2 linked regions of the Homo sapiens genome follow. The protein of the gene in region 2 purifies or fractionates together with the protein of the main gene of each other region. This does not show direct contact. Each region holds a gene or a part of one and is shown on either strand. Other genes may lie near its edges.

Region 1 (4,015 bases), on a different chromosome or scaffold from region 2:
TTTGGGGTAAAAATAGCAGAGTCAGTTGCTGAGGACAATGACCTTCCTTATAACATTTAGTTTCATACCCATATTAGGTCTTGTCTTGAGGACCCTTTATATGTGCTTGTTTACTAGTGGCCTTCCAGCCATAGCATTCTTACCTTTTTTTCCTATTCTAAGAATTAAAAAAAAAAATTATAGAGCCAGCAAGGGAGGAGGCAGGAAACAGAAATCGAATTTCATCATTCCAGTATAGTTGTCCCTTTTTTTGTATTTCTGACTTGGTTTTATAATTATATTTACTTACTAATTATTGTTTTTTAACATTCTTTATTGTGGCTTACTCTTCATACTTAGAATTGAAATTGTTGGACATCACATGTATATTCACATTATAAATACATCATTCTTCCACTGTTAGACCTTTAGATTGCTTCCAGTTTTTAATATTCTAAATAAGACTTTCAACATTTTCTGTGTTTTAGCTCATTCTCTTAGGACATTCTTAGAAGTTAGAAACATTTCTGCTGGGATCGTTGGAGGGAACTTCAAACTTTGGAATCTTTCCTGCAAGAAATTCTTTACCAAAGAAAGGCAGGTGTTTCTTAAAGGGATGCAAAAGATATTTTGCACTTTGTATGTTCCAAAACATTTAGTAAGTTAACTAAAAAAATGAGTTAATTTGGTTTCTTGGGGGATTTTAATTTTTTAATTTGTTTTCTGGTTATGTAAAAAAAATGTTTTTTTTTTGCTTCTTATCACAATCCTTTTGTTTCCTTTTTAATCCTTTAATAACACCTTCAAATTTTATAAGACTTTGGCTTATTTCCTATATAATTCTTTTTTTCTTATACCACCTCTTAAGATTGATATGTTCATTTGCAGGTAAGCATTAATTATTAGATAAAGAGGGATGATTCTCAAGATTGTGTGTGTTCTGAACAGAGGGAACTACATGACATTTTCTTCTGTAATTGCCTTTGTAACGTCTTTAGAATGTGGTTCCTAAATATTCCTGGATAAATTCTCTTGATAGGCCCATTGGAAAGGCTAATACTCCCACCCAGTGCTTTGTTCCTTCCTGGCAAAAGAATTCCTAAAACCACTGATTTTAGTTACTGACTTCTCACCATCTGGACTCTTACAAGATGTTTCAGAAGTTGTGTAGAACTTGTCTTTCAGTTGACTTGTGGCTGAATTTACTGTTACTTCTCTAATATCAGTTGTTTTCTGCATTACCACCCTCTCCCCTAACCATCTGTACTATGAATGGAAAAGGAAAAAGATGGAAAAATTATACCTAGGATTGTCCCTAAATGCAACCTCTTGGTTCCCCCCACCCCTCATGTTTTATTATAAACGATTTTAAGAGCTGGGCATGGTGGTTCATGCCTATAATCCCAATGCTTTGGGAAGCTGAGGCAGGAGGATCACTTGAGGACAGGAGTTTGAGACCAGCCTGGACAACATAGTGAGACCCCCATCTGTACAAAAAAAAAAGTGCTACTTGGGAAGCTGAAGTGGGAGGACCACTTGAGCCCAGGAATTCGAGGAGGTTATAGTGAACTATGATTGTGCCACTGCACTCCAGCCTGGGTGACAGAGCAACACCTTGCCTCTAAAACAAACAGCTCCAACTATTTTATTTTTTTATTTTTCTGAGACAAGATGTTGCTTTGTCACCCAGGCTGGAGTGCAGTAGTATAAACATGGCTCACTGCAGCCGAACTCCCAGGCTCAAGTGATCCTTCCTCCTCAGCCTCCCAAGTAGCTGGGACCACAGGTATTTGCCACCATGCCTGGCTAATCTTTATTTTTTGTAGAGACGAGGTCTTGCTATGTTGCAAGAGGGAGATCACTTAAGTGATCTTCCCTCATTGGCTTCCCAAAGTGTTGGGATTCCAGGCGTGAGCCACTGCACCCCGCCTGACCTAACTATTTTAAACACTACTCATATTGCCATCATCTAAATTCAACAACAATTTGCCATATTTGCTTTATGTATATGTATAATTATATATTTATAAAATTTTTTGAACCATGTGAAGTTGCAAACATCATTGAACTTCACCACTAAATATATCAGCATGCATCTCCTAAAAATCAGGTATTTTCTTACAAAACCATAATTCTGCTATCTATTATGATTTAACATTCTGTCATTTTCAAATTTCTTCAGGTGTTTTTTGTTACATCTTAAAGAACAGACGTTCTTGGATCTCAAAGATTCCGAGGAAGGAAAGAACATGGTGGATAATCCATAATTAAGAAGTTTGAATCTTTTCCTAGTCTTAAAAACAAAGTGAGAACTAAAGGGGTTTACCTTCCATCAAAGTTGAACAAATTAATTCTTTTGTGTGTCATACTTTCTGTCTCTCTCCCTAAAAACATGGGGGTGGTAATCTCTTTGTTTTATCTGGTAGGTTTTCCAGATAAAAGATTATACAGGTTTGGAATCTTAATATCCAACCCCCAACTCCAAGCCCTGCCCCAACAACAACAGCTAATTATTTTACATCTTGATGATGGTAAATTTTTCATGATTAACCAATTTTGGGCACCTATTCCGCCATATATGGTTTTATTTAATTTTCACAGCAACACTTCAAAGTTGATATTCATATTCTAAATTTATAGATGAACGAAGAGGCTCAAAGATTAAACAACTTGCTAATAAGTGATTTTTACCCATGCTTTTTCCATTATATTATGTTTTGGATTTTTCCAGAGTACCCAAACCCAGCAGATGCATACTGCTCCAAAATAAATGGAACTCAATACTGGCTCTGTCAAGTGTCTCTTGCCAATCAATTGTCCTTCTAATCTTTTGAGGGGCAGTTCTCTCAGTTGTACCAAGTCACTGTCATCCCCAAACTTTTCAATGATTCCAGGCCTTTAACAACTCCCCTCCACCTCCAAACCCTCTCTCACCAAATTGTGTAATTTCTTTGTTTACTGCTGGCTTCATCATGCACTTTTCCTTCATAGCCTATTTTAAGAAGTTGATTTGCTGAACTGCTTTTTAGCCAAGCTATTTGTAAATCAAGCTACACAAAGTATGTGGCCATAATTTCCAAAAGGCAAATGATCATTGTTCAATTGCTGTTGCTCTGCAGTGTGCATTCATGCAGTTAAAAATTGTACTGCATTGATAGTACGGCATCAGAGAATAGATCACTTAGGTTCAAATCCCAGTGCATGATCCTGAGCAAGATTATCATATCTAGATACATTAGTTTTTATCTGTGAAATGGGAATGATAGCACAATCTTCATAGAATTGTTGGTAAGGATTAAGTGAGTTGATATGCTCAAAGTGTGCATGCTGGCATAGAACAAGTCACTGTTTACAAGCCTTTAAAGAAGGAGCTGTTCTGGCACTGTAAACTTGAACCTTTTTTCCCCAAATCTAATGGATATAGGCAAGGAAATTATATTTATATAAAATAAATGTTTGACTACCTTTGATCATAAACTTTATTCTCATCTTGACCTGTTCCTTTGAAAAGATAATAAATACTGATATGTGAAAAATGTATGGACAGATTATTCAGATGTCTGGTTGAGGCTTTACAGTTTTGTATATTTCTGTCAGACATTAAGCTGACTCTAAGCAGTGGAGGTTTGGTTTATGCCCCTAAATTACACAGCACTTCTTTTCTCCATTGTATCGAGGGGTCATTCAGGGGTTGCTGTTCTGGAGATGGAAGCACATGTCTCCTGCCTGGGTCAGAAGCGTCACAATAGCACAAGCATTTATTCAGCACTGGCCTAGGAGAACCATTCATTTAGTCAAAACAAGCATTTATATTCATTATCCTGAACAAAAACCAGACTAAATGAGAACATTTATAGCTGCTCAGGCACTCTGCTAATTGCTATGTCTGCTAGACAAAGTGAAATGACACTTACAGTGACTATTTAAAAATAATTTGGAGCATGAATATTTGAAGCTCAGTTCTTTTTACAAAGGAAATGTATAACCTTTGCTCTTCATTTTTTTTGGCAGTTATTTATAGATCCAGGCCCTGTGT
Region 2 (3,500 bases):
GTGAGCTCAGCACTTCTCTCTGTAGCCTGCCATGCTGCTGAGAACTGATACTGCAGCCTGGGACAAGCTAATGTGTCCTGCCTGCTGGTGTGACCTTGGCATGTCTCCCAGGGTACCTCAGCATTCTTCTCTGCACAGTGCGCCAGGCCACAGAAGAGGTGAAGAATGCTCACTTCCGGGGGTGACCTGGCCATGAAGGGATGTTTCTTAAAGAATGAAGGTGTGGTGGCACAGTGTGTGGTCCAGCTGCTCCTTGCCCCTGTTAAATGCAGAATCAATAGGGATGGCTCCAATGGGAATAAGAGGGATCGGGGGCAGAGTTGAGGAAATGGTAGTTCTTTTTGGTCAGAGCTGGAGCTTGGGTGTCACTGCCAAGCTGGCTGCCCCAGAGTTTCCTGCAGCTGAAAAAACAGTGGTCAGACCCAGTTCCTAGGTGAGGCCCAGGCTGGTCAGAGGTGGGAAGATGCTGGGTGTGGCTGATTGCTGGGGGCACAACCACAGGCCATCCCATCCCTATAATTTACTCCTGCAACCAGGACAACCTCAGCAGTGTCACTGGAGATGAGACACCTCCCCAGAGGCAGTGGCTGCAGTCAGTTTCTTTTTTGGGGAAAATTTTCCCGGTCAGCCCTTCTGCTGAAAGTCCCAGGCTGTGCTCTGTGAAGGTTCCCCTGTCCCAGAGTTGCTGGGGAGGAAGAGCCGATCTTCACCCCCCGGAGAGCTAGCATCCTCATGGGTGAAACCAGGCCAGAGTGGGCCATGGAATAGAGTCCAGCTTGGTAGGCAGGAGTGCAGGCTCTGGTTCAGGGTCTGCTACTGACCTGCTTCCGTGTGCCCTTGGGCTGCCCCTCCCTTGGCCTCTGTTTTCCCATCTGTGAAATGGGACGGAGTAGATGTTGAGATTCCTTTCCTCCTCTAGTCTAGTGCTCACTAAGGGGCTGGGGATGGGCCAGGAGAGGTTGGAGAGGGATTCCTGAAGGAGGAGAAGGGGTTCTGAGCATTGTGATTCCTGGGAACCTGGACTCCAAGGGGGGTGCTTGAAGGCCCTGCTGCCTGCTGAAAGGCCCGGGGTTGGGGGGCGCTGCTTGCTTTGGCTTAGGGCAGCAGAGAACCTCCCAGAGCATGGCCAAGGAGCCCTGGTCCTCCTGCCTTAGCCCAGCCCTCAAAAGTGTGTGCCAGAGGAGGGGGTCTGTTCCCCCAAGAGGTCCCTAAATCCTTCCCCACTCTGAGATCACACATACTGTGAAGGAAGGAGAGGCTGCCACACTAGGGGAGGGGCCGTGCTGTGGGTGAGGACAGCTGGTTGCTGGAGCCCACCGGAGGATCTCTTACTTCTCCTGTCCTTGACTCTCTGAGTCTGGGTACCACCCCAGCCCAGAGCTTGTCTGACGCCCTGCCAGGACCCTGAGCACCAAGCACTGGTTCCAGTGTGCCATGTGGAGGGGACCCAGAGTCTTCTCTCTCGGGACCTGGCTTCAATGTTTCTACTAATTGTCTCCTCCTCAGGCCATGTAGGGCAGGACCGGGTGGACTTTGGCCAGACTGAGCCGCACACGGTGCTTTTCCACGAGCCAGGCAGCTCCTCTGTGTGGGTGGGAGGACGTGGCAAGGTCTACCTCTTTGACTTCCCCGAGGGCAAGAACGCATCTGTGCGCACGGTGAGCCTCTCTCTTCCCCCAACACCCCCCCTACCCTCTTATCTCCCCTCTGGCCCTGCCAAGGGTCCTCAGGGAATCCGAGGGAGCTGGCTTCTCTTCCTAAACTGCCCCCACCTCCGTATCCTATAAATGGCTCCTGGGGGAGGCTCCCTAAAGGTAGTCCAGATTGGAGTGGGGAGCTGGGGCGGTGTGGAGAAAAACAGGAGCTAATGGGCCTGGCCAGCTGGGCAGCGCTGCTGCGGAAAGCCCAGGCTGGAAGCTGGGCCCCAGAGCCCATGCCTGGTCTTCTGAACCCTCTGGGCCTCAGCTCTGGATATGAGACCCTGTTTGACCTCAGGTAGATCACTCACCCTCTCAGAGCCCCAGTTGCTCATCTGTCAGATGAGAATAATGGTTGCTTCCTTTGGGGCTTATCCTGAGGCTGTGTGGAAAGCATTTCAGGGGTACCTCACCCCTGGCAGATTGAACTAATGCTTCTCCCCTTCCCCCAGGTGAATATCGGCTCCACAAAGGGGTCCTGTCTGGATAAGCGGGTGAGTGGGGGAGGGGGTATGGAGGGGTCTGAGCCACTTGGTAAAGGGAGAGGAGACCCTGAGGGTCTAAGGAAGGAAGCATGGCCCTGCCCCACGAGTCCCAGACTGATGGGGAGACGTGGTCCTCTGTGCTTAGGGGATGGCGTCAGCTGCACACACTCTGGGCTGTCCCGGGAGGCTGTCACCTATGCTAAGCCCTTCTGACACCTTCTTCCCTGATCCTGGGGGTCCTAGTGCTAGGCTTGCCAGGGCCTTCCAGCAACCAATTTCTCTCCTCCCTTCTCTCTTCCCCGGGCAGGACTGCGAGAACTACATCACTCTCCTGGAGAGGCGGAGTGAGGGGCTGCTGGCCTGTGGCACCAACGCCCGGCACCCCAGCTGCTGGAACCTGGTGAGAAGGCTGCTCCCCATGTGCCTGATCAGCTCACCTTCTACTGCGTGGGCTTCTGCCCCTCATGGTGGGAAGGAGATGGCGAGACTCCAATGCTGGCCTTGCCCTGGGAGGATGGGGCTCCTGGCCGAGAAACTGGCCGTCATGGGAGGCAGTGGCTGTGGGATTATGTGGCCATCCAACCCTCTGGATCTCCCACAGGTGAATGGCACTGTGGTGCCACTTGGCGAGATGAGAGGCTACGCCCCCTTCAGCCCGGACGAGAACTCCCTGGTTCTGTTTGAAGGTAGGGCAGTGCTGGAGCAGGCGCCCCAGGGGGATGCTTCTGAACTGGGCTGGGAGAGGAGTGGTCAGCTCTTTGTCCAGTGTCCGGAGGAGGGACTTCCAGGAGCTGCCTGCCCTTACTCATTTCTCCCTCCCACTGACCCCAGGGGACGAGGTGTATTCCACCATCCGGAAGCAGGAATACAATGGGAAGATCCCTCGGTTCCGCCGCATCCGGGGCGAGAGTGAGCTGTACACCAGTGATACTGTCATGCAGAGTGAGTCAGGCTCCGGCTGGGCTGAGGGTGGGCAAGGGGGTGTGAGCACTTAAGGTGGCAGATGGGATCCTGATGTTTCTGGGAGGGCTCCCTGAGGGCCGCTGGGGCCATGCAGGAAAGCAGGACCTTGGTATAGGCCTGAGAAGTTAGGGTTGGCTGGGAGCAGAGGAACAGACAAGGTATAGCAGTGGGATGGGCCCAGCCCTCTTCAGGAACACAAACAGAGGGAGCCCCAGACCCAGTGCAGGGTCCCCAGGAGCCAAAGTTTATCCTCTGCTGAGTTCACGTGGAGGCAGCCCCCAACTCCCTCCTCATCAGGGCTCTGCCAATTGAGCAGAAGTGACATAGGGGCCCCCAGGGACCTTCCCCCAGTCCC

The links. Proteins that work in one complex are often made in the same cells at the same time.
Region 1: the proteins of SEMA7A (region 2) and PIGM purify together in Homo sapiens (affinity purification with mass spectrometry; one large-scale study listed by BioGRID and IntAct). This does not show direct contact.

The regions. Positions count from the first base shown.
Region 1 is NC_000001.11:160,024,453-160,028,467, reverse strand, and holds the end of PIGM (GPI alpha-1,4-mannosyltransferase I, catalytic subunit), read left to right. Parts: 3' UTR 1-3,515; downstream 3,516-4,015.
Region 2 is NC_000015.10:74,416,959-74,420,458, reverse strand, and holds part of SEMA7A (semaphorin-7A isoform 1 preproprotein), read left to right. Parts: exon of another isoform or gene 1-165; coding exon of another isoform or gene 166-220; intron 221-1,506; coding exon 1,507-1,658; intron 1,659-2,149; coding exon 2,150-2,191; intron 2,192-2,489; coding exon 2,490-2,582; intron 2,583-2,783; coding exon 2,784-2,868; intron 2,869-3,013; coding exon 3,014-3,124; intron 3,125-3,500. UniProt on the Homo sapiens protein: Plays an important role in integrin-mediated signaling and functions both in regulating cell migration and immune responses.